7 linked regions of the Homo sapiens genome follow. The protein of the gene in region 1 purifies or fractionates together with the protein of each later gene. This does not show direct contact. Each region holds a gene or a part of one and is shown in the gene's direction. Other genes may lie near its edges.

Evidence for each region.
Region 2: the proteins of CPEB1 (region 1) and STAU2 purify together in Homo sapiens (affinity purification with mass spectrometry; one large-scale study listed by BioGRID and IntAct). This does not show direct contact.
Region 3: the proteins of CPEB1 (region 1) and MSI2 purify together in Homo sapiens (affinity purification with mass spectrometry; one large-scale study listed by BioGRID and IntAct). This does not show direct contact.
Region 4: the proteins of CPEB1 (region 1) and DDX50 purify together in Homo sapiens (affinity purification with mass spectrometry; one large-scale study listed by BioGRID and IntAct). This does not show direct contact.
Region 5: the proteins of CPEB1 (region 1) and METAP1D purify together in Homo sapiens (affinity purification with mass spectrometry; 2 studies listed by BioGRID and IntAct, with this or other methods). This does not show direct contact.
Region 6: the proteins of CPEB1 (region 1) and CSTF2 purify together in Homo sapiens (affinity purification with mass spectrometry; 2 studies listed by BioGRID and IntAct, with this or other methods). This does not show direct contact.
Region 7: the proteins of CPEB1 (region 1) and PUM1 purify together in Homo sapiens (affinity purification with mass spectrometry; one large-scale study listed by BioGRID and IntAct). This does not show direct contact.

The regions. Positions count from the first base shown.
Region 1 is NC_000015.10:82,546,364-82,549,863, reverse strand, and holds part of CPEB1 (cytoplasmic polyadenylation element-binding protein 1), read left to right. Parts: intron 1-205; coding exon 206-404; intron 405-2,626; coding exon 2,627-2,721; intron 2,722-3,342; coding exon 3,343-3,423; intron 3,424-3,500.
Region 2 is NC_000008.11:73,614,341-73,617,840, reverse strand, and holds part of STAU2 (double-stranded RNA-binding protein Staufen homolog 2), read left to right. Parts: intron 1-389; coding exon 390-549; intron 550-2,058; coding exon 2,059-2,166; intron 2,167-3,500. UniProt on the Homo sapiens protein: RNA-binding protein required for the microtubule-dependent transport of neuronal RNA from the cell body to the dendrite.
Region 3 is NC_000017.11:57,609,523-57,613,022, forward strand, and holds part of MSI2 (RNA-binding protein Musashi homolog 2), read left to right. Parts: intron 1-3,500.
Region 4 is NC_000010.11:68,900,016-68,904,114, forward strand, and holds the start of DDX50 (ATP-dependent RNA helicase DDX50), read left to right. Parts: upstream 1-1,299; 5' UTR 1,300-1,369; coding exon 1,370-1,456; intron 1,457-2,040; exon of another isoform or gene 2,041-2,411; intron 2,412-4,099. UniProt on the Homo sapiens protein: ATP-dependent RNA helicase that may play a role in various aspects of RNA metabolism including pre-mRNA splicing or ribosomal RNA production.
Region 5 is NC_000002.12:172,079,953-172,082,930, forward strand, and holds the end of METAP1D (methionine aminopeptidase 1D, mitochondrial isoform 1 precursor), read left to right. Parts: intron 1-175; coding exon 176-254; intron 255-375; coding exon 376-454; 3' UTR 455-2,478; downstream 2,479-2,978. UniProt on the Homo sapiens protein: Removes the N-terminal methionine from nascent proteins. The N-terminal methionine is often cleaved when the second residue in the primary sequence is small and uncharged (Met-Ala-, Cys, Gly, Pro, Ser, Thr, or Val).
Region 6 is NC_000023.11:100,823,391-100,826,890, forward strand, and holds part of CSTF2 (cleavage stimulation factor subunit 2), read left to right. Parts: coding exon 1-38; intron 39-495; coding exon 496-615; intron 616-729; coding exon 730-867; intron 868-3,243; coding exon 3,244-3,367; intron 3,368-3,500. UniProt on the Homo sapiens protein: One of the multiple factors required for polyadenylation and 3'-end cleavage of mammalian pre-mRNAs. This subunit is directly involved in the binding to pre-mRNAs.
Region 7 is NC_000001.11:30,968,218-30,971,717, reverse strand, and holds part of PUM1 (pumilio homolog 1), read left to right. Parts: intron 1-3,225; coding exon 3,226-3,364; intron 3,365-3,480; exon of another isoform or gene 3,481-3,500. UniProt on the Homo sapiens protein: Sequence-specific RNA-binding protein that acts as a post-transcriptional repressor by binding the 3'-UTR of mRNA targets.

The DNA.
Region 1 (3,500 bases):
ACTCAGTAAAATTCAACTCCAGTTGGGGTGGAGTCAGGGTGGTTTATTGGACGCCTGTGTGCCTGAGATTGGGCAACAGCACCTTTTCACCCCTGTAAGGGCGTTAGCTTAGCTTCAGTATCTCCAGAGCACGTACCTTGCCGTGCAAGCACCTCTCTCTCTGTGGCTCTCTGCCAGGGCTGATACACCTTTGGGTGGTTTTCAGGTGCAGGTGATCCCCTGGGTATTAGCCGACAGTAACTTTGTCCGGAGCCCATCTCAGAGGCTTGACCCCAGCAGGACGGTGTTTGTCGGTGCTCTGCATGGAATGCTAAATGCTGAGGCCCTGGCAGCCATCTTGAACGACCTATTTGGTGGAGTGGTGTATGCCGGGATTGACACAGATAAGCACAAGTATCCCATTGGTAAGTGTCCCACTTCTGTGTGCGAAAGCTTGGTTGGCCCCTGGGAGTAGACCAAGATTGTGATACTTCCCCATGGGAGTGAGGAGAGAGGCCTGACCCAGGTCTGCAGATCAGCATATACCAGCACCATAATATCTTTTTCTAGACAAGTCACGAGTACTGGCCCTTCTGTATCTAGCCCTCTACCCACCATCTCCCACGCAGTGGGAGAAAAAGCTATTGGAGACTACAGGAGGTGATAAGAAGTGAGAGTGAGGTAGGAACTTTGTTGGAAGCTCAGAGTTCACAGCGAAACCAGTTTGGAACAGACAACAGGTACTATTTCATGAAAAGGCTGCAATTCTCTGAACTTGCCTGGAGTTTTTTATTAAAAGTTCTTGAAAAGCTCTGGCATTGTCTAAGGTCAGAGACCAGGTCAGGCTGGAGGAGGACTTTCTGAGTGAGTCAGGCAACAGAGTGTGGCCTGTGCTTTCCTAACTCAGAAGTCTGTGGGCCTAACCACTAGGTTTTGATCAGCTCCTCTGAGAAAGGAGGTCAATTCGCCAGTCCTGGCAAAATGTCAATGATGAGGTATGGAGGTGGAGCAGAGCCTGACCTCTGTGATTAACATGTGGCTAACCCACCTCCCCAAATGCTTAGTCTTCACACCCACACTGAATCTGGTCAGGAAGGAGCACCATGTACTCACCAATACTGTGCAGCAGATTGAGAACAGGGACTTCAGAAGCCCCAGGAGCGGAGGAGGAACTTGGCAGGATGGGGCTTCTTCCAGCTCTCTTAATAGGTCTCCAGAGTGCCTAAGGGCTAGGAGAGGTTCAGTTCAACTGCTGGGCTTACCCTTCAGACAAGTGTTCTATCTGCATCTTGGCTTCCACTCTGAATCCTTTAACCTTAACCTATGCTCTACCTGCACTGAAGGAGTCCCTTATCTTTCCTTCCCATCTTGATCTGCAAATTCTTCCCCCATTCCTGAATGGTTCACGCTAACATGATCTCCACTGTCAAATATGGTACGAATATGGTAGCTACCAGCTAAATGTGGCCCCATTGAGTTTTGGAAACACAGCTGTTGTCACATTTGGAAATAATATTATTAACATATAGGGTTAAATAAAATTTTTTTTTTGAGATGGAGTCTCACTCTGTTGCCGTGCTGGAGTGCAGTGGTGCTATCTCAGCTCACTGCAACCTCTGCCTCCTGGGTTCAAGTGATTCTCCTGCCTCAGCCTCCTGAGTAGCTGGGACTACAGGTGTGCGCCACCACGCTCAGCTAATTTTTGTATTTTTAGTAGAGACGGGGTTTCACCATGTTAGCCAGGATGGTCTCCATCTCTTGACCTCATGATCCGCCCACCTTGGCCTCCCAAAGCACTGGGTTTACAGGTGTGAGCCACCGTGCCCGGCCAATAAAATATATTATTAAAATTAATGTCACCACTGTTTTAAAATTTCAGTGTGACTACTAGAAAATTTAAAGTTACATAAGGGCTGACCATGATGGCTTATACCTATAATCCTGGCACTTTGGGAGGCCGAGGTGGGGCAGATCGTTTGAGTCCAGGAGTTCAAGACCAGCCTGGACAATATGGTGAAACCCTGTCTCTACAAAAAAATACAAAAATTAGCCAGGCATGGTGGCTCATGCTTGTAGTCCCAGCTACTTGGGAGGCTGAGGCAGGAGATTGTTTGAGCCTGGGATGCAGAGGTTGCAGTGAGCTGAGATCACGCCATTACACTCCAGCCTGAGTGACAGAGGGAGACCCTGTCTCAAAAAATAAATAAAGTTACATAGTAGCTCACATTATATTTCTGTCGGACAGCACTAGTATCGTAAAGGGTTTCCTGCATTTTAAAAGAGTAGCATTAGGGCAGGCTCGGTGGCTCACGCCTGTAATCCCAGCACTTTGGGAGGCTGAGGCGGGCGGGTCACAAGGTCAGGAGATCAAGACCATGCTGGCTAATGGTGAAACCCGATCTCTACTAAAAATACAAAAAATTAGCTGGGTGTGGTGGCAGATGCCTGTAGTCCCAGCTACTCGGGAGGCTGAGGCAGGAGAATGGCGTGAAACCGGGAGGCAGAGCTTGCAGTGAGCAGAGATTGCGCCACTGCACACCAGCCTGGGCGAAAGAGCGAGACTCCATCTCAAAAAAAAAAAAAAAAAAAAAAAAAGTAGCATTTGGGAGAATTTGGTTAGAAGGGAAGCTTGTGTCTGTTGTCCTAGGTTCTGGTCGTGTGACTTTCAATAACCAACGGAGTTACCTGAAAGCAGTCAGCGCTGCTTTTGTGGAGATCAAAACCACCAAGTTCACAAAGAAGGTGAGTTGGCTGGTTTATGCCCTTACTCTGGGGTATATGAGAGGGGTTTGGGCAGTTACTACCCAGGGCAGGCCTGAGACCTGAAGCTGTTTGTGCTGGGTGTGTTTAGGGAAGTGAGCCAAATTCCTGAGAATTAACATTGAGGTTAGGGTTTGGGAGTGGGCTTGGTCTTTGTACGCCCAGGAGGAAGGGAACTGGGACTGTTGAGCCTCTTCAGTGTGTAGGGTGCCTTCCCTCACTGTGGTATTTCTTTGGCATTGCTCAGTAGCCTGACTTCCTATTTTCCAACCTTTTGGGAATCCTCCGAACACTTGCCTATACTGCTAATTGATAGAGGGCTGAGGTACAGTTTGCCTAGAAGACCAGGCATTAAGGTGTGTGGTTGCCTGAATCCCAGAGGCATCCAGCCTGACTGTGCATGGTGTATGAGTCTGTCCTCTAGAACTCCTTTCTGTACTTCAGGCCCATAATTCTCTCCAAGCCTCCTTTAAAACAGGCAAATATCCTGCATTCCAATATCCCGCATTCCTGTGTGTGGCCAATAATGTGCCCTTCTTCTATCGCCTATCGAGCCTCCTGGTAAGAAGAGCCACTTCATCATCTTATTTTGCCTTTGTGCAGGTTCAGATTGACCCCTACCTAGAAGATTCTCTGTGTCATATCTGCAGTTCTCAGCCTGGTCCTTTCTTCTGTCGAGATCAGGTGGGTCCGATGTCTATGAAGTCCCTGCCCTCTATTAAAAATTGTTGGCTGGGCGCGGTGGTTCACACCTGTAATCC
Region 2 (3,500 bases), on another chromosome or scaffold:
AAAAAGCACGGTAATCTACATGTTGTCGCCTGAACAGTCTTGCCTGACCCAGCCTCTGTTGTAGCTTCATCAGACTGTTCTCTTACTTCTGTCAAAATCTGACCGAAAACTTCTCACCAGGAAGTATCCTGTGATATAATTAAATAATTTTTACTGTATTGTTTTATGTTTAATGTTGTATTCTATATATGTTTTTCATGGAGATCAGTATAAGCTATTATCTATAGATGTATTGACTCACATTTTATCAAAAAAGTATGTTTTTGAGGTTAAAGTTTTATTAAGAGTATAGCACATTATATAATTGGTATCATTTTAAACAAATCTTATGAATGATTATAGAGTGGTTTTATTAAGCTAACTTTAATGTTTTTATTTTCTTATTTTAGGTATCATTGCCCAGTGCCTAAGATCTTTTATGTTCAGCTCACTGTAGGAAATAATGAATTTTTTGGGGAAGGAAAGACTCGACAAGCTGCTAGACACAATGCTGCAATGAAAGCCCTCCAAGCACTGCAGAATGAACCTATTCCAGAAAGATCTCCTCAGGTGTGGTGCTGCTGCATGTGACAGTCTGTTCTTTCTACTTTCCCAGTGAAACAAATCAGAGCATTTTATAATTAAAATAAATAATCTGTTCTGATAGGGAAGAATACTAGAGTGAAGACCTGACAGTCTTGCTTCATGTGTTCCTGCAGGGTGACTACCTTTCAGAGCTTTGGTTCTTCCCTTGAGTTCACTTCCCAGGCAACTGGGGATTTGGGGATGTATATGAGGATGAGAAATAACATTGATTTGGCTTATATTTCATACTATGTTTATTGAATATAGATTACATTGTGTGAATCTAGAATCAAGGATTTAAAGTGGAAGAGATTTTATGGATTTTTCAGTCCTCTTTTGTTTTACAAATGACATTGAGGCTGTTCTTAAGTAATCTCACTCATTCTCATGGCTTCAGCTACTTTCTTGATTGACTTCAAAATAGTATCTCTAGCTCAGGCATGTCCTATACATAGCATAGTGAGCTTCCTTTTTTTTTTGAGATGGAGCCTCGCTCTGTTGCCCAGGCTGGAATGCAGTGGCAGGATCTCAGCTCACTGCAACCTCTGCCTCCCGGGTTCAAGCGATTCTCCTGCCTCAGCCTCTTGAGTAGCTGGGACCATAGGCTCATGCTACCACGCCCAGCTAATTTTTTGTATTTTTAGCAGAGATGGGGTTTCACTGTGTTAACCAGGATGTTCTCGATCTCTTGACCTCGTGATTTGCCTGCCTCGGCCTCCTAAAATGCTGGGATTACAGGCGTGAGCCACCATGCCCGGCAGCATAGTGAGCTTCTTACTTACCCTACAGTTCAACCTCTACAGTTTTCCTTTCCCCAAACCAATTGTTTCTTTCTCCTTTGATATTTATCTTAATGGCAGACTTAGGTGTTTTTCTGCTTGTACTCTTTCATGAGAGCTCCTATCTATTTCTTGATCTGTTTTCCCACTAGATCATTCTCTCCCAGTTCTTGACAGCAAGGAATACTGTCTCTTTCTAATAGTTATAGTAAGTTCAGCATATATGAGGCCTTCCAGAAGTATGTGTTAAATAAGTGAATAAAGTAAACCAATGCCTGTGCCAGACATAGATCTCCAATTAGGATGCTCCTGGTTTGCATCCTGTACTCTTTCTGTAACTTCATCCTCATAGATCACATTAGAACACCAGTGGGGGAATTCCTGGGTGTTGGGGGTTGGGTGGGTAGAGAACTCTAAAACAAGAGTGCCAGGTTTAGGGATGTAGGCTAAACTCAAATTAGTGTATGGTTGAGTAAAAGATTTCCAAAGTCTGCATTAAATGCTTTTCCTTCAAGGAAAACAAGCTAAAAATCGAGTAACAAAAAGCCTGGCAGCAAAGCCCTTGACCGCTGTGGTTACAGGAGAATGCAGCAGATACAGTCTATATAGTTTGTTGTTTCTTCTTGTAATTTAAATAGGCCATCTTGACTGTAGAATAAAAGTAAAGTTTGTTATAATGTCAAGATTCAGTGTTATCCTATTTTTTGTGATTTAGAATGGTGAATCAGGAAAGGATGTGGATGATGACAAAGATGCAAATAAGTCTGAGATCAGCTTAGTGTTTGAAATTGCTCTGAAGCGAAATATGCCTGTCAGTTTTGAGGTATGTACTCGGTAGAGATCTTCCCATTTTTTCCCTTGCTGTGGTTATTTTAAACAAACAAATCAAATTAACTGGTGTATTAGTATCCTGCAAGAGTTAGTGTGCTTCTATATGTTCAAACCCAGTATTATGAAATGATCTAGGCCCTGGTGAAAATAGAAATCATGATGATAACACAGATTCCTTCTGATTTTTTTCTTTTCTGTATTAAGCCTTTTGTATACATGGTATTTCAATTTTTATTATAAAAGTTATTTTCTGGGTATAGATAATTTGTGGTATCCTATAAGATTTGGCATTTTAAATAGGATTAAATTAAATTTATTCAAGTTAAGATTTAGTGACATACATGTTAATATCCAATTTTTTTTTCAATTGTGTGGAGGCCAAAATATGTTTCACTTTAACCTCAACTAACAAAATCACCAAGAAGTAAGATGTAATGAAGCAACTCTTGACTTAACAGCTAGATAAATATATTGCAAATATATTCATAAAATTGTATGAAATTTCAAAAAAGAAAACTTAAAAAAATAATTATTATAATACTTCTTTTATTAAGAGGTCACTAATTTTACAACTCATGTCTGGAAAGTAGACAAGAACCAGGAAATAAGCTGAAAGAGTTGTGGAGATTCTTCCCTCACATTGTATGACATTCACCTACTAGAAAGCTCCCACATCTTACTCATTGGCAGGATCATCTGAGTTGGACTGAGAAACTGTTTGCTTTCTCTTGGACACATTCTTACAAGTTGCATTATCTCAGTTCTCGGTCCACAGCTTGTTAAAAGCAGCAAAATGAGGAAGTCAGGGAGAGAATGTACTTGAGATCCTATTGGTCCAGCAAGAAATGATACGGAAAATTTGGAAAACCTGTAAAAAGTAATTGCTTATACTAAAAAATTATTGGGATTTTTTTTAAAGGCTACAATGAGTAAGAACAGACAGTTTTATTATTCTTAGGTGTTCTTGGGAACATCAATATATTATGATGTAGGATATCTGATGTTTATAATGATGATCTAATGTGAACAATTAAAGGTTAAATATTTAGTATTGCAGATTAAACAAGGTTTAGGAACATTACATTCATAGTTGACAGGTCCATAACTCATTACTCTAGAAAGCTAGGAATTTTTTTGGCATACCTACTTACCTTTTTAAAATCGTGTCACAAGAATAAATATCCCTTTCTGTAAAACAGCTTTTGACATCCCTATCAAAAACAGCTTATTTTTATCCATTGACTGTTTTTGAGAGGCTTCCACAGGCACAGTGCCTTGTGGTTTATAGAACTACTCGTTTCTCCAGCAACTTACTCGTACATAGGA
Region 3 (3,500 bases), on another chromosome or scaffold:
CTTGTCCTGGATGGTACATCAAGGCCACAGGTCCAGGGCTTGGATTTCCCTCTGGGCCCCAAGGCCGCGTGCTGACTGGGTTCTTTTGTACAGAGACCAGGGAAAAACAAAAGCCCTTTACTTCCCAAAGCTTGGCATACTCCTCAGACTGCCAGCCACCATCCCCAAAGATGCCAGGGCAGTGAGCTTACCTTTGCAAGGGCTTCGGATCCACTGGGGAGGAGTGGCCACTCATAGTAGCTGCAGGGAAGCTGTTCTTGCAGAAGCTCCAGCACCTCCTCTGAAAGCCAGTGCTAAGCATTCCCCGCTAGGGAGAGGGTGTAACGCAGGGCCACAGCACCCACTCTCCTGGCTTGGGCTGGGGCTATAGGCAGATCGGGATTAACATCCCAGCCCTGCACACAGGTACTGGGTCTGGACCACAGGTTAGATGTCTGAGTCTGAGCCTCAGTTTCCTGCTCCGTGGGATGGATATATAGCTATAAAGGTCATTATCGGGTCCGCTGGCAAAACAAGCGTATGGAAGGTAAAGTATTGCATTAATGTTAAACGTACTGAGACTGATAACTGTGCTATGATTACGTAAGAAAATGCCCTCATGTTTATGAAACGCATACCAACTTACTCTCAAATGGAAAAAAAAATCCTGGCCAGGTGCAGTGGCTCACGTCTGTAATCCCAGCACTTCGGGAGGCTGAGGCGGGAAGATCACGAGGTCAGGAGTTCGAGACCAGCCTGGCCAATGTGGTGAAACCCCTGTCTCTACTAAAAATACAAAAATTAGCAGGGCGTGGTGGCGTGCACCTATAGTCCCAGCTACTCGGGAGACTGAGGCAGGAGAATCACTTGAACCCGGGAGGCGGAGGTTGCAGTGAGCTGAGGTCACGCCACTGCACTCCAGCCTGAGCGACACAGCAAGACTCCGTCTAAAAAAAAAAAAAATTCTACATATAGAGGGCTCAGGAGTGTGTGCAAATGATAAGGCAAAAGTAACAAAATGTTAGCAGTAGGTGAATTCTGGTAAAGGATACTCTCCTTGCAACTTTTCTGTAAATTTGAAATGATTCCTGAGTAAGGAGTTAGAAACTGCAAACCTCCTTGCTGAGTTGCTGTGGATGCTGATGGGAGGAGGCACCCAACCCAGTGGGCAGCAAGGACAAGAGTGTTAGCGACCACAGGGGCCACACTCCCATCAGGCCTTCGTTTTGTTCTCTAAAGGAACATGCTGCTGCCCTAGGTGTCCAGGGGCTAGGTGTCCAGGGGCTAGGTCATTATTCTGAACCCATTACCATGGGGACTATGAGGAAGCCACACCCTCTCTTCTAAGGCCAGTTTGTCGAACAAAGCAGCATATTGGGAGAAGAAAATTTCAGAACAAATCCCATCAATTTTGTTGGGGTGGGGGGTGTTGGCACATCCCTGGTATTGGGAGTGTTTTGTGGCATTGCCAGCTGTGCACCTTGAAAACAGAGACCTGGTCCTTCTGGTATAAGCAGTTGGTCATCAGTGGCCTCTGAGGCTTCTTACAAGTGCTCAGTCAGATGGAACATCTCACTGCATTTCTTGCCCCTTGAATAGACTGCTCTGGTCAGTTGCTATTTGAAACAGTAGCAGCAGTAGCAGCAGCCACTGTGAGAAGCCGTTGGTGCAGGAGACTCAAGGACTGAGACTGGGAGGTGGGCCTTCCTCAAGGGGAAGTCTTAGGAGGTGGGGCCAAAATACCTGCAGCAAGAGGCCTGGTCCCCATGAGCACCACATTTGTTTTGTTTTAGAGGACCATGGGGAGCCAGGCAGGCCTGTGTGGGGCTACAGTGGGAAGGGAGCCCCCGTGCCCTGCCCTCTGCCCTGTGGTGAGAGCAGCCCTAGGTGCCCACTGCTCCAAGGACCCAGCCAGCCAAAAGCCAGAGTGTGAGGAGTGCCTCCTGCTGCCCTGTCAGCTCACTGCCCTTCACCGACCACATGTGGTTGTTGGTCTCCAAAGATTATCCCTAGAGCCCCCTCCCACACGGACTCTAGGCTGGCCCAGTGTCACCAGTAGAATGTGTGGGAGGGAACACTGTGAGTCCCAAGGCTAGGTTAGAAGAAGCCTTGCAGCTTCTGCCTGAGTCTGTTGGAATGCTTGTGCTTGGGACACTTCCTCTTGGGACTTAGCCACCATATTGTGACAAGACCAGGCGCCATGGAGAAGCCATGGTGGACGCCCCATCAGCAGGCCCAGCCAAACCAGTGTGGCTGCCTGCCATGTGAGCGAGGAGCCATCTTGGGCCTCCAGCCTCGTTGAGGCCTCCTCTGGCCTCAGCCCCAGTCACCACCTGACCACAGCGCCATGAGACCACCAGCAAGAGCCCAGCTGAGCCGGTCACCCCACAGAACCCTGAGGAAGGATGATTAAATTGTTGCTCAAAGCCACTAAGTTTGGGGGCAGTTTGTTGCTCAGCAGTAGATACCTGGAACAGAGCATGTGACCAGATAGCCTAAGTACATGACTAGAACCGAAAAGATAGACCACTTTTTACCCTTTTTGGGTTCTGACTGTCACCCGGGTTGTTCATGCCAAGCTCTCTGGCTTATGCAGGGCCTGGGGGAGGACAGCAGGGGAAGGTGACCCGATGTGGGCTAACTCAAGACGCTCGAGAGGCTAACAAGTGCAGAAGCAGCGAGGGGCAGGTTGATGTGTGAGTACTTGCATTCATCTTAGGAGAACAAGACAGTCAGAGCCTCTTCTTTTTCAATACAATGAGAGCTCTCAGAGAGGTGGAGGCTTTCCTTATTTATCTTTGGGTCCCCAAAGCCTAGCACTTGCCTGGCGTGTTGAGTTCCTCCGCATCTGCGTCATTGAATTAAGTGGCTGAGTCTCGGGGGTGGAGGGGACTGGACAGGCTTCCTGGTCCTGAGAAGTCTTTCAAGAGGCCTTCAGGGCAGGCAGGCCAGGTTCCCTGCTGTTAACTGTTACCTGCTGCCTTCCCCTGTCATTCAGATGCCCAGGACAGGCCAGGGTCCCCTGGAGAGTGTATGCGCCATGGCCCCTGGCCTTGGGGAACACTCACCGTTGACCCAGCAGGTGGTTGGCACTCAGACAGTCATTGCTGCCCAAACCACCAGCAGCAAAGACAGAGCAGAATTAAACAGAGCTGTCAGCCCTGTTCAGTGAGAGGAAGAGTAGGTGGGTTTGTTTAAAACACTCCCATTACAGTCAGTTAACCTTTATGTTCCCTAAATGAAAATTGTATAAACCTGAGATTTCCGTTGATCGGGTTGCCTAGGAACAGGCAGCAGGTTTTCATAAGACAATGCAGTAGATTGTCACCGATAGGGCTATTAGGAAGTGAGCTGGTTAGCGGTATTATTCCCCTTGCTGGTGTTGGCTTTGGGTAATTATCTGTCTGCCTGTGCGAGACACGCCCATCTTCCTAGGCTTGGGGCAGGTTCATGCAAATGAGATTTCTCAGCCTGCTCCTCTGGAGTCCTGAAGCCAGTTTTCACCCCTGGGCTTAGGAGAG
Region 4 (4,099 bases), on another chromosome or scaffold:
CAATCACAGATTTAACATTTGTGGTTCCAGCTATTCAGGACCAATTCCCAAACTCCACGACATGTAACAATTTGTAATTTTGCTAGGACACAGTTTGATGCTTAGGTTTTAAGGCTGGTGTGCTAGACGTTATCAAGTGGTTTGTGAGAGTAGCCCTGTGTCTCCATTGGGTAGAGTAGCTGGGTCGCAAGGATCATGAAGAGATGAAGAAATGGCTGTGAAAAGCCAACTAGCCTCGGTGATAGTAAGCAAAGGTATAGAAACACTAAGGAAGTTACCCTTTGTATTGTCAAAGGTTTCAGTTTTGTGTAAGGTGGTGATTCACGGGCAGTTAATCTCCATCACTAAAATTAAATCCTTTTTTATTCATTGCAAATAGATAATCTGTGGAAGACATTTTGGCTTTTCTCGCTAGCAGAAAATGTGAGGCTTCTTCAGGTTTTTCCTGTTCATTGTTTCACGGGAGCATCTTCCCCAAAACACTGCAAAACTCAAAGTTCTCAGGCTGATGTGGCAGAAAGAGCATTGATCTCGGCTTCAGGAGCTAAATTCTCTAGTCCTGACTGTGCCACTAACAGACTGTGGGACTTCAGACAAGTACATTCCTTTCTCGGGTTTCTTATGTCAAATGGACAGCGTGAGAAGGATCACAATGAACCAGGGATCAGCTTCACGATTAAAACCTAAGACTTAAGAGACGGACATCTGTCCGTTCCTGGCTACACCTCCGGCCCATCTGGCCCACCCCAAACTGCGCGAAGCCCCTCTCCACCGACGCCAGGCCTGTGGCCTCGCGCGAAGCTGTTGGTCGTTAACATCTCCCCCGCAATGGGCGGGATGGAGGGCTTCAGCTTCCGGCTGCAAATGGCGAGGCGGCGCGCGGCGTTGCCCACTGGCCTCGGCATGGGCCTGCCCACGCACCCGCCCAGCGCGCGCCGGACCCTGTCTACCGCCGTTGAAGGGCTTCCCAGCCCTAGCAGTGCGTACTGGGAAGCCCCCAAAAGGCTCTGCGAGGCCGAGGAGACCCGTTCGGAGTGGGGGAGGGGAAGATAAACCGAACTATTTATGTTAATCAGTGCATGCTTCCTTTATGGAGATTGGCCAGGGTTTTACTCTAGTAACCAATCACTTCAGAACAAGGGCGGGCCCGTTGATATCTCTCACACTCATTGGTTGAGAGGTTGCGGCGCAATGGAAGGTCTTAAACCGAGAGTATCCGGGATTATTTTTCCCCGCCGTGCGGTGCGTGTCCCGGAAGTGACGCATGGCCAAGGCCGGGCGGCCGCCTTGCCCCCGCTTCCTTTCACGCTGTCGCTGCCCGTAGGTGGTTGTGGCCACTGTGCCCGGAGGGAGGCGGCGGTGGCCAGTAATGCCTGGGAAACTCCTCTGGGGGGACATTATGGAGCTGGAAGCACCCTTGGAGGAGTCCGAGAGCCAGAAGAAGGAGAGGCAAAAGGTGCGCTGAGCATGGGCCGCGCCTCCTTTTGGGCTGCGCCGGCTTGGGCGGGGAGGGGAACTGTCTGTCCCTGATGATGGCCTGTCAGAACCGGGCCGGAGCATCCGAGGGCCTCCCTTCGCGCCGCCCTCGGCCCTCTGGGGTCGCTCAGGGACCGTTTCCACCTCCACCCTCCCGACCTGGAGAAAGATGGCCCTGGGCTTTGGGCCTCTCCTCCGCGTGGCCCCTCAGCCCTTCCCGTTGGCGCCTGAATCTCAGATGGGCAGACTCAAGCTCCCATCACCATGGAATCTGTTCTTTCTCTCCTGAAGCAGTGACGCTTGCCATTTCGTTTTCATTGGCCCTCTTAGAAGATGATTAAGAAAAAATGATTGCTTTGAATATGTGTTGCTTCTGTCACCCCGTCCCCTGTGCAAGAATCCTGGGGAAAGCGATCTTAGGTTTACAGACCTCAATAACTAGTCTGTAGAGGCTTAAGGAAAAGTGTCACTGAGACTTGCCAGGATTTGTCAGTGATGGAGATCGTGTGGGTTGCATTATTAATAGCCTTTACTGTCAGTATTTTCATTCAATCCGCAGGTGTTTATTGAACCTAATTTGTACCATACTCTTTGCTGAGTACCAAGGAGGTTAAACTAAATAAGTAAAGAAATGGTCTCTGCTCTCAAGGAGCCTGTAGAGGAGTTGTAGTCTTTCCTCCTCCCAGCCCCCTGCCCTCCAAAAAAAAAAAAAAAAAAAAAGGAAAAGAAAAAACATCCTGAAACACTCAGAGGATCACAAGGTGCTGAAAAAATGCCCAGGTAAAATTATTACTGGAGACATTTGACCTGGAAAAAAGAAATCAGCTGAAGAGGCTAAGGTGGCAGTATTCGAAGGCTGACATTCGACAAAAGAATGAGACTTATTTTGTATAGCCTTAGAAAGCAGAATCTACCTCTCTGACCTTATCACTAAGGTAAACTTGCCATTTCAGCTAACACTTTTATTGTGCTAAAATACACATAACGTTTATCATTTTAACCATTTTTAAGTATATAGCTCTGTGACATTAAGTATATTTACATCGTTTTGCAGCTGTCACCATCATCCATCTCCAGAACTTTTCATTGTCCCAGACTGAAACTCTGTGCCCATTAAACACTCACTTCTCATTCCTCTCTCCTTCCACTCCCGGCAACTACCATTCTACTTTCGCTCTGTGAATTTGACTACTGAAGTTACCTAGAGTGTAAGCAGAAAACCAAGCAGGTATTTTAAAAAAGGCTTCTTTTGAAATTCTTGTCTTTTGCATCCCAATCCTGTCCAGCGGTCAAGGCCTAGTTTATGTCTTTCCTGACAACCCGAATGTACCGTTATCTAGTTTCAGTGGCTATCTTCATCATTTGATTGACATTTGTTATGCATGTCTATATAAAATTAGTTCATTTTTCCTGTATGTATCCCACATATTTCCCAAAAGTTCTTGAGGAAAGTGACCAAATCTTTATCCATCCTTATGTTTCACTATGTTGTTTTAAATTGGTGGCTTTCACATTGTAAATTCTCCAGAAATACATATTGACTGCCCTTTAACTATGAAAGATAACCAGAGATTTGGAAACGAATTGGAATACCAACTAAAAGAAATAGAGCATTAGAATACAGGTCTGGTGGCTAGCTGCAGTGGCTCATGCCTGTAATCCTAGCACTTTGGGACGCTGAGATGGGAGGATTGCTTGAGCCCAGAAGTTTAGGTAGAGTTTTGTAGAGACCCTGTCTCTACAAAAAATAAAAAAATTAGCCGGGTGCGGTGGCTCATGCCTGTAATCCCAGCACTTTGGGAGGCTGAGGCAGGCAGATCACCTGAGGTCAGGAGTTCAAGACCAGCCTGGCCAACATGGTTAAATCCCATCTCTGCTAAAAATATAAAAATTGGGCCGGGCATGGTGACTCACTCCTGTAATCCCAGCACTTTGGGAGGCTGAGGCGGGTGGATCGTGAGGTCAGGAGATCGAGACCATCCCGGCCAACATGGTGAAACACCATCTCTACTAAAAATACCAAAAAAGGCCAGGTGCGGTGGCTCACGTCTGTAATGCCGGCATTTTTGGAGGCTGAGGCAGGTGGATCACCTAAGGTCAGGAGTTCGAGACCAGCCTGGCCAACATGGTGAAACTCCGTCTTTACTAAAAATACAAAAATTAGCTGGGCATGGTGGCACATGCCTGTAATCCCAGCTACTCAGGAGGCTGAGGTAAGAGAATCGTATGAACCCGGGAGGCTGAGGTTGCAGTGAGCTGAAATCGCACCACTGCACTGCAGCCTGGGTGACACAGCGAGACTCCATTTAAAAAAAAAACCCAAAAAACCCAAAAATTAGCTGGGTGTGGTGGCGCGTGCCTGTAATTCCAGCTACTCGGGAGGCTGAGATACAGGAATTGCTTGAACCTGGGAGGCAGAGGTTGCAGTGAGCCGAGATCGCACCATTGCACTCCAGCCTGGGTGACAGAGCAAGACTCCGTCTCAGAAAAAAAAAAAAAAAAATTAGCTGGGCGTGGTGGCAGACGCCTGTAATCCCAGCTACTCGGGATGCTAAGGCAGGAGAATTGCTTGAACCCAGGAGGCAGAGGTTGCAGTGAGCCAAGATCACGTCATTGCACACCA
Region 5 (2,978 bases), on another chromosome or scaffold:
TAGTATACTATGTAAGCAACATCAATTATCAACCCTTGCAAGATGACAACATGAGCCTGTGGGGGAAGCACTTGAGGGGAGGGAGGAGAAACTTCTCTTTTTTAATAATCAGCCGGAAACAATGTTTAACAAGAATCTGATGAGGTCACTGCAGTAAATATTTTTCCTCTTACAGAGCCAATCATCACGGAGGGATCCCCTGAATTTAAAGTCCTGGAGGATGCATGGACTGTGGTCTCCCTAGACAATCAAAGGTGTTTGCTTTCTGCTCTGTTGCTTTTAAATTGTATGGGAAAGGAAGATTGGTCCGACGGCGCGCTTGTGGCCCGGCCGGAGCTTGCGTGCGCGTTCTGACGGCTGGGTGCTGTGTTACAGGTCGGCGCAGTTCGAGCACACGGTTCTGATCACGTCGAGGGGCGCGCAGATCCTGACCAAACTACCCCATGAGGCCTGAGGAGCCGCCCGAAGGTCGCGGTGACCTGGTGCCTTTTTAAATAAATTGCTGAAATTTGGCTGGAGAACTTTTAGAAGAAACAGGGAAATGACCGGTGGTGCGGTAACCTGCGTGGCTCCTGATAGCGTTTGGAAGAACGCGGGGGAGACTGAAGAGCAACTGGGAACTCGGATCTGAAGCCCTGCTGGGGTCGCGCGGCTTTGGAAAAACAAATCCTGGCCCTGGACTCGGTTTCCCAGCGCGGTCAACGCATCTGGAGGGGACTGGAGGAAACCCCCTTGTTGGAAGAGATTCCAAGAGAAGCACGGTTTTCTCTTTCCCTTGCCCTGACTGTTGGAGTAAAAAACCTCTTAAATCCATTGTATCAGAGGTCCTTACCTCTCTGACAGTTACAGTGATCTTTGTATCTGAACTTTGCACGTCTGCCGAAAAATCCGAACCTGTTGACTGGGATTTTTAAGAATCCGTTTCTCCCTTTTGTGTATTCCATATTGGCCGGCCCCAAGGATGCTCGCAGAAGCCAGCCCCCAACCCCAGCCCTTCCGTATCTTTCCCCTCCATCGCGGCTTTGCGATGAAAGATTAGCCCGCGAACAGAGGCATTGATTACAAACATGTCCTTGGCAGTGGACTCTGGGCCTGGCCATTCTTCAGGTTTCTGTCAATCCAGAAACGCGACTTTCCTGGACCCCTGCGGCTCTTCCTCCCCCGCCCACATCCAGCCCTCCAAGGCCAGTCCAGAGGTGAAGTTTGAGGCCCTCCCCCCACCCACCCCACACGCACGCACGCACGCTAGACCGTTTGCTGCACTAGGAATTCGAGCTTGGGCCCCACTCGCCCAGGTGTGAACAGTGGCTGATTAGTGGGCGGTCTAGTCTCTAAAATGACCCCTCCCCAGACTGGCCCTTCTCGCATCGGGACCCGCGCTTGCACGCTGCAGGAGCCGCAAACGTCAGCTGTTCTGGAAACCGAGAGGGTCCCAGAGAGAGGAGATACGGGCGCATTTGAGAGCAAGGGCCTACTTGGCCGGGACTGAAGCTTGCGAGTTGAGCTCCAGTTCGGCCGGCAGTTCCATCCCGCTTCAGGAACAGGAATCCAAGGGCCCACGCTCTGTCTGCCAAGGGCCATTCCTGCCCGGAGCACCCTCCTTTCCCTTGCGCTTGCTCTCCGGTACCTGTTCCTCACCTGAGCTCAAGGGCAGGGAGAGGCCGGGCCTCTGGCAGTCCACGAAGGAAGCCGTCTGCCTTCGGTTATGATTTTAGGAACAAGTCCAACGAGGGTGTTCAAGCAGTTAATGGTTGTGCTAACTCTTGTTTCTACTGAAGCGGGTTTTGCAAAGCTGACATCCCTTAAAGATAACTTGGGCTTTCGGAAGCGGCAAGGAAATGGCACCTGTAGTTGCCAGGACAGGTGGTGTCCTCGGCCAGGACTAAGAGCCAGCTCATCTTTGTAACATTCATAATACGGGAAACTGAGGACCAGGTGGCTCGGAAAAGAGATGAGTTCCAGCTTTTACCTAACACAGGGTTCTCTCGTCGTCCCCCAACCCCTCCAGCTCGGCTTCTTTGTGTCCAGGGTTGTAGATTTTTGGATAGAGGTGTTTCTGATTCTAGTGAGTCTGAGAACTGGAAAAGACCAAGGAGGGGTTGATGATTTACAAGGTCCATAGAAAAACTTTTTGTGTGGTCGGAAGTTGGCCAAGCAGAGGCCCACAGCCTGATGCTACTGCCCCCCACCCCCCCAAAGATCTGAATTCCCTAAAGATCAAGAGGGTTCAGCTGGCCTTGGGAGATGTTTGCTGGAGAATGACTTCAGTTTTCTCCTAAGGCAATCAGATTGCAACCATTAGCATTGTATCTTATCTGCAAATCAGTTTACTCCGAGGTTCCCCAAGGATAGTTTTATTAGGACCACAGGACTTTACTAACCACTGAGGTAACACGCTGCTTGTGCAGCAATTATTTTGAGGTGGAGGTATTTATGGGACAAGTTTATAATTCCATTTATTAAAGGGACTAACCTAAAGTGTGTGGGTGTATATATATATGTGTGTATGTGTGTACCAACACTCAGCAGCTCCCTAAAGAACTCCCTTTAACATGCTTTGAAGTTGAGATTAGGAAGTAGATTTAAAAATACCTCGTCCACGCCTTCCTGTCCCTCTTCCAGCTGAACTGGCCGAAAACCTCACCCAGAGCCACTGGGATTCCAGCCAAGAGTGGCTGCGGCTAACACCACCAGGACCTCCTGGTCCTGAGGTGACTCCAGTAGGCTCCATGAGGAATCCCGGACCCTCAGGACAAATGGGAGAGTTTTGTTTTCTCTCAGAGTGAGGGCAGGCAACAATTTAAGCAAACCGGCATTCAGAACAGGTGTCACCTTAGCAGTAGGGGGTGGGAGGGATCCACTCCAAGTTCACTGAGTGCAGCTAAGATCCCACATTGAGAAACCAGCTACCGCCAGCGGCTCGGCATCAGAGGGCCCGCGCTCAGTGCTCCTCCCTAGACCTTTCTGAGCTAAGAAAT
Region 6 (3,500 bases), on another chromosome or scaffold:
CACCAGAGCAGATGTTTGAGCTGATGAAACAAATGAAGGTGGGAGGAGGCATTAGGTTATGAATAAAGCAAATCACATCAGGTTTTCAAGGAGTTACTTGAATTAGTTCCCTGAGCTCAAATAGAAATTGTCTGTAGACCACCATTTCTTGCACCTTCAATATTCTGTATGTACACAGTATATTTTACATTTTGTACAAAGAGCTTTCTATTTTTGTACACAAACACAGCTATCCAAACAATCCAGCTGGAGTTTTGTGGCCCATAGATGTCAGATGTAGATATTAAAATTTGGCTTTTTTCCTAAATGATAATATCACAGTATTTGAAATGCCTCTTTCTTCTCTTGCCTGCCATGACCAAGGTTTTTTTGTGCCATGCAAAAACTAATGATAAAGAGCCTCTTGAATATTACATTTCTCAGAGGGGAATGGCTCTAAATCACTATCAGTTTCTAAGTCATAAGTATTAAACCTGAATCTGCTTATCTTCTCAGCTCTGTGTCCAGAATAGTCCCCAGGAGGCACGGAACATGTTACTTCAGAACCCTCAACTGGCTTATGCTTTGCTGCAAGCACAGGTAGTGATGAGAATTGTGGATCCGGAAATTGCCCTGGTGAGTGCTTCTGGTTCTTTTATGGAAATGGTCGGGTAAACCTTGAATGGGATAGGAACTACCTGATTGCTTTGTTAAACAGACAGCTCATAGGTTTGTCTTTTCACTTTTTAGAAAATTCTGCATCGCCAGACAAATATCCCAACGCTGATTGCAGGCAACCCTCAGCCAGTCCATGGTGCTGGGCCTGGCTCAGGATCCAATGTGTCAATGAACCAGCAGAATCCTCAGGCCCCTCAGGCCCAGTCTTTGGTAGGGCTTTATCCCTTAACATTTTTTTGTATCTGTCTTAGAATGTCATTTTCTTTTTAGGAGAATATATTGAAAGAAGAATGGTCAGGAACCAGAGATGATAATTTCAATTTCCAGGCATAAAAGCAATTTCCAGGTTGCAGAGCACATGACATCTGAATGAATATAGATTCGATTCCAAGTTTGTAAAACAAAGAGATCCTTCCCGTATGCCCTTTTCTTATAAGCTAACTTTGTGTGTATGTGCATGCCTGGCACTGTGGTTGGCACTTCGTTATTCCATATGCATTATCTCATTTAATCCTCAAAGCAATTGTATGAGGTTGGCACTCTTATTATCTCCATTCTTACTGATGAAAAAAGTAAAGCTTGCTTTCAAAGCATGACACAAAACCTTAAAGCCATAAAAAATTGATACATTTGAAAACTAAAAAATTTCTATATAAAGAAAAAAATAAGTATCAAAGACATGACAAATTGAGAAAAAGTATTTACCACACATGTGATGGAAAACAGACTAATAAAGAGCCCATAGTCATTCACAAGAATGTTTATTGCCTTAGAGTGAAAAATTGGAAATGTCCTAAATGTACGTCAGTGGAAGAATGGAGAAAATGTGTGGTACATTCATCCAGTGAAATACTGTACAACAGTTAAATAAACTACACGTATCAACATGAATGACTTTGAAAAACATAATTCCATACAGCAGTTAAGATGAACTAGGATACATAATATCAACACAACTCCAAAACAGTGACATACGGACATGAAACTAAGTGAATATGGATGCATTCCCGAAATGTAGGATATATGTTTCTGCATAAATCCCCAAAATATGTGGAATGAGTTGCAAAATAATATATTGAGTATGTAATGATTCATATAAAATTTTGAAACATTAAGAAGACGTCTTAGTGGTCATCAAAGGAGAAGAGAGCACAGGATGCAATTGGGGAAGACCGTACAGGCCATTGGTTTATTTTATTTACTTATTTATTTCCTAAGCTGGGTGGCTATTTTATTTTCTATATGATTTGTATATCTGTAATTTTTCATAATAAATTTTAAAAGGCCTCCTATAAATTAGTAAGAAAATTTCCAATAACCCAGTAGAAAAATGGGAAATAGACATAAATATTTCACAAAAGGAGAAATATAAATATATAAAAATTTATTCAACTTCAAAATAAGATAATGTAATAAATTATCATTTATATATGTAATGTTATAAGATAATGTAAATAGAAACTACAATAAGCTACCATTTTTCATCTCTCAGGTTGGCAGAGGTACAGGGCAGGGACCAGCAAACATTTTTCTGTAAATGATCAGACAGTAAATATTTTTGGCTTTGCAAGTCACAGGATCTGCCACAGCTACTCTGCCATGGTAGTATGAAATCAGCCATAGGCAATAAGTGAACAAGTGTGTGTGGTTGTGTTCCGTTAAAAGTTTGTTTATAAAACCAGGCAGTGAGCCCGATTTGGCCCATGGGTCATAGTTTGCCAACCCCTGCTCTAAATAAATAAATACATTTTCAGAGATAGAAAAAAAAAGCTAAGGCCCAGAGAGGTTAGCTGGTCCAAAAATTGACACAATTATAAGTGGCAGATCTATTTCTGAACCTGGTTTTATCTGACCTCACAGCCAGTTTTCTCTTAACTACTTTCCTATACAGCTCTTCCTTTTCTTTTGTAGAGTTTTGTGTTCCTTAAACGTATATGTGATTTTTTTTATATAACTTGGCTTTTATTCTTTATTTATTGAGCTGTTTCTAATTCAAGGGACTACTCAGTTTTTTGGGGAATGCACAGATGAAAAGATGACATTCTCTTTTTCTCAACGAGTTTTAATGTAGCATTTAAAAAAATATATTTCACATTCCCCCAAAACCAGAATTATATCTAAGGACAGGAGTGAGAAAAGATTGGTTAAATTAAAAAAAAAATTTAATTTTAAAAATGTGGACTACCAGCAGTTGTTTTTTTTAAAAGAGTCCCAGTCTCCTTTTATGTTTCTTGGGTTTAGGGCTTTTTTTTTTTTTTTTTTTTACTCTTATTGGCAGCCCCAATCATGAAGTTAACAGTAGGTGTTATGTGCTGCCTTGCCACACAGATAAGACTTGTCAATCTCTACATTGAGAATATGTTCCATCTTAACCGTGTTCCATATAACCAGGCTCATGACGTATATTGCTTCTGTGGAGTTTAAAGTGTGTGACAAATCTAATGCTGCATAAGACATGCCATACAAAAAGGATGTTTAGTAGTGTATTTGGGGCTGTTCATTTGAAGAGGACTTTTAAGGTCGTAGACTTAGTATATTGAGTATCCACAGAGGCATATACATACTCTGTTTTTTTTGCTTGGTCAGGGTGGAATGCATGTCAATGGCGCACCTCCTCTGATGCAAGCTTCTATGCAGGGTGGAGTTCCAGCACCAGGGCAAATGCCAGCTGCTGTCACAGGACCTGGCCCTGGTTCCTTAGCTCCTGGAGGTAAGTTTCATTTAGTCTTCACCATTTCAGTACTTGCTAAAGTTTTGTCATAGCCACTGTTGCAGTGCAGCCAAATATGATAATGGGATCCTTAGGTAAAATTAATACACAGCTAGAAAGTATATATCTTAGG
Region 7 (3,500 bases), on another chromosome or scaffold:
AAATAGAATTTCATAATTGAGAGGAAATCGATTGAGGAAATACAATTTGTGTGCCCAGGGTCACACAAATACAAAGTTGTTAAGATTTGAACATAAGCCTCTGTCTTGACAACTTTTCTTCTGACCATATTGTGATGTCTTGACTTAAAGAAAATCTGAGATCTTGTGTTTCTTCTGCCGTTAACTAGCTTACAACTAGGGCAAGTTGGATGGCTTCTCTAAATGCATATATTTTTGTTATAAAATGGACATAATAATCATTAACTTTTCAGTTTTCTGTCATTCCCTACAGGTTCTGTCAAACCCTACTAAGAAGTTTTTAGCATTAGTTTTTAATTAGCAGCCATTGTTTTAGTTCCTTTTTTTTGGGTGCCAGTTTCTGATTTTAAGTATTTGAGGAAAATATGATTTTTTTGGTAAACTGCCTTGTCATAGTAATTAAAATGAGAGGTTCTTTTTAAACTTTGCTGTTGGCCTTTTGGGCCCTTGTATTTTATCAGAAAGTATATGTTGCGTTCTAGTCAAGCTGACTGTTCTAGGATAGTTTTTATAAATTCAGTCATTTTGTGATTTATTAGACTTTAAAATGTTACTTGTGAAACTGTATATTTTGTTTCCATAAAATCATGGATTTGACAGCTATTGATGAAATGAAAATATATGAATTTTGGCAGATAACTGAAGGACTTTTATTTGTAGTTAGGGGTACTGGACAGATTTCTAGAGAGTGGACAAAAAGCTAACACTGTTTTCCTTCCTTATTACAAGACTCATCAATAGTCTTAGACTACCTCTTTAGGTACCTTGTCCACTCTACCACACCTGCCCTTTCACAGAACACCTAATCAAACATAAACCTACTTCTTTATATTCTGTGAAAGCAATGCTTTCATTGTTTTTTAAAATCTTCAGCAATTTTGAACTATTAGCATTTGCCATATTTCTGTGCTTGCTATTTACTTATCCTAGAGTGAGATCTCTTCTGAGTTATTGGGTATGTAAATTCTAAGTATTTGGCAAAAATGCTTGCTATTTACTTATCCTAGAGTGAGATCTCTTTTGAGTTATTGGGTATGTAAATTCTAAGTATTTGGTAAAACTCACCTGTACAGCCCCCCGACTCTTCTATCTACGTAGTTTGAAACACACTTTCTCTTACAAAGTTGGTTAGGTTCTTTAGGTCAGAAACAAATTATATAATATCTTGATAATAGTGATTTGCTATTGGTTATTGATGATCTCCTGGGTATCAGGCAGTGTGGCTTAAACACATTATTTGAGATATTTCCAGCAAATCTGCAAGATCATTTGTTAATTCTTACTTATTACTGATATAGAAGTAAAAGATTGGGCAAATTAAGTGTCCACACATCCCTTCTTGCCAGTGTGGACAGTGTTGGTCACCTTATACTCACTTAACAAATATTTAATTGGTTATTAGTGTTGCTTCTCTTTTTACATTTTTTTTTTACCACTGGTACCAAGAATAATTTGTACCCATTTTCTTGACCATATGTCTAACTTTTATAAATAACACAGTGAAATTGAAAGTGATCTGATAAGAACTGTACACTTGACAATATGACAAAACACATTGTTAGGAACTGTAGTAATTTTAGCCTTGGTTTGTGGGTTTTGCATTTTTGCTTGCTGGAGTGTGTAGATCTTGTGAGATAGATTCTTCACATCATTCAGAATAATAATGATTGCTAGCATTTTGATGTCTGTGTTTCATTAATAAAAAGTAGATCCTTGACTGGGCTCAGTGGCTTCACACTTGTAATCCCAACACTTTGGCAGGCCAAGGCAGGTGGATTGCTTGTGCCCAGGAGTTAGAGATTAGCCTGAACAACATGGTGAGACCCTGTCTCTACAAAAAATAGAAAAATTAGCCAGGTGTGGTGGTGCATACCTGTAGTACCAGCTACTCAGGAGAGGTGGGAGCATCTCTTCAGCCTGGGATGCAGGGGTTACAGTGAGCTGAGACTGTGCCACACTACACTCCAGCCTGAGCAGCAGAGCATGGCCCTGTCTCTTCCCTGCACTCCGCGCCACCCGCCGCCCACCAAAAAAAAAAAAGTAGATCCTTTATCAGAGTGGCATAACTGGTATTCTGCACTGAACTTGACTAATGCGTATGTTTGTGGAATTTCTGAGAGGGAAATAGAAATAGTCAGGTGAGAGCCCTACCAAATCGAATCTGGTGAACTCATTTGGGGCCATGTGGACCTTGATAAATATATTAGTGTTAAAGAGGAAATATTCTCATTCCATCTTTTGTGTGCATGTGAGACTCAGTTGACTTTAAATGTGTGGGTAAATTACCCCTGTTCATCTTGTCTGGAACCCCTCCCAACCCCCATTAATACTCTTTTTTTTTCTTTTTTTTTTTTTTTTTTTTGTGTGTGTGTTTTGAAATGGAGTTTTGCTCTTTTTCCCAGGCTGGAGCGAAGTGTCTCGATCTCAGCTCACTGCAACCTCCGCCTCCCAGGTTCAAGTGATTCTCCTGCCTCATCCTCTCTCGTAGCTGGGATTATAGGCACCTGCTGCCACGCCTGGCTAATTTTTGTAGTTTTAGTAGAGACGGGGTTTTGCCATGTTGGCCAGGCTGGTCTCGAACTCCTGACCTCTGATAATCCACCTGCCTCGGCCTCCCAAAGTGCTAGGATTACAGGCGTGAGCCACCACGCCTGGCCTGTTACACTCTTTTTTTTTCTTCACCCACTTTTTGTCAGAGCACTGACATTATATAGTATGGTTTATTGTCTGTCTCATTCGTTAAAATAAAAGCTCCATGAGGACAGGGGCTTTGTCGGTCTTGTTCATTGCTCTGTCTCACTTGCCCATTTGCCACATGGTAGGCATTAAATATTTGATAACACTACCACTTGCTGATGCCAGATATTCCAAATTCATCTTTTAACTTAATTGTCACAAGAACTTTATGAGGCAGATGAGATAAAATGTTTGAATGAATGAATCATCACTTTTGTGTGCTTTTTGCTGCTTATAGAGATAATGTGTTTAAAGTAAGAATGGTAGAATGAAATTCCACTCTATGAAATGTTATTAATTGAATTTATACGCTAACAGCTGTGACATATAAAAACCATTATAGGGAAACAATTTACAATTAAGTTTTAAAAGTTGACCCAACCTGAGCATAGGGTAGGTCTTCTCCAATGAAAAGAAAGTGGTTGAGTTATTTCTGTCTTCCTTTCCCAGGTTCTCCGTGGAGGAGCCAGCCAACGTCCTTTGACCCCAAACCAGAACCAGCAGGGACAGCAAACGGATCCCCTTGTGGCAGCTGCAGCAGTGAATTCTGCCCTTGCATTTGGACAAGGTCTGGCAGCAGGCATGCCAGGTGCGGCTGCATTGTTATTCCTAATACTTTGGCAGGGAAAAAGGCTGCACGTTTGAGGTGATTACAGAGGGGAATGAGCAGTGCTTTCACCTTGCTTAGGCTTGTCATGATTTGGGGACTGGCAAGGATGATACAC